2 separate regions of the Homo sapiens genome follow, and region 2 is linked to region 1. The links come from fine-mapping of genetic effects on gene expression. A gene starts in region 1. The other region holds a variant in brackets. All regions are shown on one strand. Distances are between the middles of the regions.

The links.
Region 2: its variant is fine-mapped to the expression of MED13 in whole blood (INTERVAL, PIP 0.95).

What each region holds. Positions count from the first base shown.
Region 1 is chr17:62,063,520-62,066,312 of GRCh38, forward strand. MED13 (mediator complex subunit 13) reads right to left here and starts at 1,759. Exons shown (of 30, transcript NM_005121.3): 1 at 1,621-1,759. The coding sequence starts at 1,686. RefSeq lists enhancers at 1,150-1,249, 2,160-2,419 and silencers at 1,400-1,679, 2,470-2,549.
Region 2 is chr17:61,828,345-61,831,137 of GRCh38, forward strand. All of the region lies in intron 6 of BRIP1 (BRCA1 interacting DNA helicase 1), which reads right to left. Among named protein-coding and RNA genes, the nearest start is that of BRIP1, 34 kb to the right of the region's middle. The variant G/A (reference allele first, on the strand shown) is at 1,652.

The sequences.
Region 1 (2,793 bases):
AGCAAGCAAATATGTACTCCAAGTAGAAACAGAAGAAACTGAATGATGTTAAATATAGACACACACTTCAATATGCAAACAGAGTACATTTTTCTCTGTCCTAACTGGTCACATTTGTTCACTGGTGTCAAACTTTTAACTGAAAATCAATTATTAAAGACCCTATCATGGGTTTTTATTCCACATTTACAGAAGTAACGTCTCTAATGAAAAGACATCTGAACAAGTTCTGAAAAAATCTATGTTAATTCTTCACACACACCCCTGTCGGAAAAGTCAAATAGCTACTCACAAAGAACTGTCAGATTTGTGCTAGTCTATCTTCAAAGAACTGATCCTAAAAGTACCAAAAATAGACTGAGTTGGATAAGATAGAAATATAAAACCTGGTGTATGTCTTATTACATGTGAAGAGATGCTGATTAATGGACATTGAAAAGAAAAACATACTGTAGACGAGGATAGAGTATTAAAGATCTCAATTTAGCATGGGCGTTAAGAAATTCGACAAGAGGAATTCAGTAATTTAATCTAACTTAAAGGAGCAAAGCATAAGGTGCCAAAAATGAAACTGCTGATACATGACTGGCAGTTTACACTTGCCAACTAGTTGTGCTCCTCCCACTTAACTCACTTACCTATCATATACTCTTAATATTTCTCATAGCACAAAGGAGAAAATGAAAAAGTAAAGTCACCCAAACTTAAAGTCATTGATGAAGCTCAGCTACTGTCCCATACAGGACAAGTTATTTGCAACAGTTGGTACTTCTGAAAGCCTTAACTGTTGGATGTTACCAGACCTGGGCTAACCTACACAATGATCATCCCTACATCCCGCTTCTCTCGACTTTCCATTTCAATCAAACAAGGGAGCAGCCTGCTCAAAACATTCTGAAAAAGCAACCAAAACACAATAAATATAGAAACAGTGCAAAACCACAGCACCTCGTCCACTAGCCCCCTTCACTCTCACAAAAACATCATGTTCTAATAAAAGCAAGATGGCTAGAAATTGTCAAAAATGGCAAACTGTTTTCAAAGTTTAAAAAGAAAACATATGAAATGGCACCTACTGGCTTTTACAGAGAGATCTTAAGTCACCCAAGAAAGAAACTAACCTGGCGTTAGTTTGACTCATACAAAAAAAATGTAAAACCAAGACAGGTTTCTAGGGCTTAAGTTCTGGGGTCCTGTTTACATGGGGAAACCAAATTAAAAGGGTAAGACATAAAGGCGGTGGGGAGCAGGGGCAATAATGTAAAGTGTGAAGCAGGGATACAGGGCCAATAAGGAGAAAAGCAACAGTTAAGCAAGACAAGAGGGAAAGGTTACTGTCCTGCCAGATAAGGAGCTCAAGTTGAGGACGAGACTACGGTGAGAAGGAGAGTCCGAAACAAGACGAGAAAAAATGCCAACACTCCCCTAAACAGAGCCCGGGACCGTAGGAGAGCGAACGCCGCCTCCCGGGGCTGGCCGCGGAGCTTCGCAGGGCGCCGGCTCCGGCTGGGCCTCGCCCGGGAACTCGGGCATCTGGACCAGACCCGGCCCCCTCCCCCACGGCCCAAGGGCGCACCTCGCGGCCCCCCTCCCTCGGCGCCCGCCGGCCCCGGCACTCACCAGGCAGAAGAGGTTACAGTGACAATCTTCCAGGCTGGCCCCGTTCGGCACGAAGGAGGCACTCATCGTCCCTCACAGCAGCCGCCGCCGGCGCCACAACCCACCATCCGCCATTACCGCCGCCTCCGACCAGAGAGAGAAACACAGACACCGGGGAGGGCCGGGGGGGGGGTAGTGGTTGGGGGGGCGGTGGAAGAGGAGGCCGCCGGGCGCCCGCCCTCCCCACCCACCCCCCCGCCGCCGCCGCCGCCGCCGCCGCCGCGAGCAGCCCCCGCCGCCCGGCCGGCACCCAGCCGCCCGGGGCCGAGGGCCGGAGGCGGGAGGGCCGCGCCGCGCTCGCCTGGCGGGCCGGACTGCGGATCCCGCAGACGCTCGTCCCTCTCTGGGGGACGGAGGGGATGTGTGCCCCTACCACAAGAAAAATAATAAATTACACAATAAATAATCAAAATCAAGTCCGAGACGGCAGAGCCCAAGCCCAGGACGGTTCTCCCGGGCGGAGAGGCGCCCGCACAGGAGCGGGAAGGGCGAGAACCGGGAGAGAAGCCCAGGCCCCCGGCGCGGCAGCGGCGATGTCCTTAAGCCCAGAGTCTCCTCAGCGGCGGAGGTGGTGGCGGCGTCTGCGGGCTCAGACCATTCTCTGGCTCTGTCTTCGTGTCGTTCCTGGGCCAAGCCGGCCTAAAGTTTGCCCTCCTGTGGCCTCACCGGCTGGACGCCGTAGTCTCCCCCATTTTGTGGGCCCAGCGGGCGGTGTTTTTCCCCCTTTAATCCGAATTCACGGGTTTTCCCTTCGCTTTAATGGCGGCCACAGGGACCAGCTCGCCCTCTCTGCTCACCCATTGGCCGCCTTGAGGTCACGTGGGCCCGGGCTCGGTTGGGAGGGGGAGAGAGAAGTGAGCGAGGGAGGGCCGGGAAGCTTTCGGCGGAGGCGGTGAGCTCGGGGGACGGGGCAGCCAGCTGGTGGCCACTAACATAGCGCCATCTGCTGGGTGCCCCGGCCAGTATAAAACGACCCGGGGCCCTGGCCCTCTCTTTGCGGGGAAATTTACAGTCCAGGAAGGTTCATTTCACAAATCAGTGAGAATTACGTGGAAATCAGTTTGAGTTCTTTGGAAGAGAAAGTATTGGCAAAAATTCCAAGACATTCTCATTTATTTCGCGAGGCCGCTGGGG
Region 2 (2,793 bases), 240 kb before region 1:
TAGAGTAGTCAAATTCATAGAGACGGAAAGGAGAACGGCATTTTTCCTGGGGCTGGACAATAGGGAAATACAGAGATATTGTTTCATGGGTATGGTGTTTCAGTTTGGAAAGATGAAAAGGTTCTGGCACTAGATAATAGTATATAAATATGCATAATACCACTGAATTTACACTTAAAAACAGATAAATGGTAAATTTTATGTTATATATATTTTACCATTAAAAACATGAAGGTAAGAAAAAAAGCTGAAAAAATATTTGCAATGCAAATGTTAAATAAAGCTCTTTAAGCTAATAGAAAAGTTACACAATACAGAAACTTGGACCTACAAAATGAAGGGCACCAGAAGTGAAAAACTGGAGGGTTAAGAAAGAAATTATTTTCCTCATTTGTAAATTTGTACATAGCTGATGATTTAAACTAAAAATAACAAAACACTGTGAGGGCTATGACAAATGTAGAAGTAAAATATTTGACAAAAATGGCACAAAACATGGGAGAGTAGACACGGAAGTATATTGGCAGAAGGTTCTTACACATTATTTGTGAGTTGAAATATTATTTGAAGGTACACTGTGATAAGTTTAAGATGCAAAGTATGAAGCAACTCACAAAAATAAAACTAAGAGGTATACTTAAGAAGACAGTGGTGAAGGTAAAGTAGAATCCTAAAACATGTTTAATTAATTCAAAGAAGACAGAAAAGGGGAATAAAGAAAAGTTGGAACAAACAGAAAACAAATAGTAACCACAGTGATAATTACACTGAATGTAAATAGTATAAGTGTTCCAATTAAAAAGAAGAGGTTGTCAGATTGGATAAATAAAGAAGACAATTATTTATAAGAAACTTATCTTAAATCTAAAGACACAAATAGGTTAAAAATAAAAGGATGAAAAATATATACTATGGAAACATTAATCCTAAGAAAGCTGGAGTGGCTATATCAATGTTAGCCAAAATAGATCTCAGAACAAAGACATTTCATAATGACAGATGGGTTAATACATCAAGAAGACATAATAATCTTAAATGTGTATACAGCTAATAACAGACCATGAAAACCCATGAAGCAAAAACTGGTAGAATTGAAAGAAAAGGCAAATCCACAATTATAGGACCCTTACAGTATTCTCTAATTAATTTATAAGTAGACCAAAAAAAACCAGCAAGGATACAGAAGATCTTAGCAAGATAATCAACAAACTTGACCTAACTGATTTTTATAAATGAATACCCATACTTTCCAAAAACTCACAGAGCATTTGCCAAGACAGATCGTCAAATTTAAAAGAACTGAAATCATATAGAATCTATTCTCTAACCACACAAAAATAAATTAGAACTCAGTAAGAGAAAAATATCTAGGAAAAAACACCTAGTTAGTGTTTATTTAGACTTCTAAATAAATCTTGGGTCAGAGAAGAAATCACAAGGGAAATCAGAAAAAAATGTAACAACATCAAAATTTGTGGGACACAGATAAAGAAGTGCTTAGAGGGAAATGTATAGCTTTCATTGGTGTTTTATTTAGGAAAAAAAAAGGTCCAAAATCAGTTATCAACTATTTAAGTTTCAATCTTTTTTTTTTTCTTTTTTTTTGAGACGGAGTTTCGCTCTTGTTGCCCAGGCTTGAGTGCAATGGCAC[G/A]ATCTCAGCTCACTGCAGGCTCCGCCTCCTGGGTTCAAGCAATTCTCCTGCCTCAGCCTCCCGAGTAGCTGGGATTACAGGCGCCCACCACCATGCCTGGCTAATTGTTTGTATTTATAATAGAGACAGGGTTTTGCCACGTTGGCCAGCCTGGTCTCAAACTCCTGGCCTCAGGTGATACGCTCGCCTCAGCCTCCCAAAGTGCTGGGATTACAGGGGTAAGCCACCATGCCTGGCCAAGTTTCAATCTTATGAAGCTAGCAGAAGAGAAAATTACATCCAAAGAAAGTAAAACAATGGTAATTAAAAAAAAAAAAAGCAGAAACCAACAAAATAGAAAATGGAAAAACAGAAAGTCAACAAAAACTTTTTAAAAGATCAATAAAATGGATAAACCTCTACTACCTATTACAGATTGAGCAAAATGAATTCTAGATTAAGCAAAAAAAAGGAGATAGACACAAATTCACAAATTATGAATATCAGAAATGAAAGAGGGCATATCACTACAAATCCTACAGACACTTAAAGAAATAAGAGAATATTTTGAACATTATGCCAATAAATTCAAAAACTTGAATGGACAAATTTATTGAAAGATACTAATTACTAAAACTGACTCAGAAACAGAAAATGTGAATACTCCTATACTCATTTTTAAAATTAAATTTAAAAGTAAAAGTCTTCCCAAAAATAACACATAAGGGCAAGATGGCTTCCCTGGTGAATTCTATCAAAAATTTAAGGAAGAAGTAATATCAATACTTCCCAACTCATTTTATAAAGCCAACATTACCTTGATATCAAAGCCAGATAAAGACATTACAGAAAACTATAGACCAATATTCTTATGAACATAGATGGAAAGAATCCTTAACAAAATTTAGCAAGTCAAATCTAACAATTATATAAAATGGGTCCTATACCATGATCAAGTGGGTTTTATTCCACTAATTTACAGTCAGGCCAACATTCAAAAACTAATCAATGTAATTTACCATATCAACAGGATATAGGAGAAAAAACATATAATCCTACCAAGGAATGCAGTAAAACTTTAAATATAAAATCCAACATCCACTCATTATAAAAATGTTCAGCCAACTAGCGATAGAAGGAAACTTCTTTAGCCTGACAAAGGG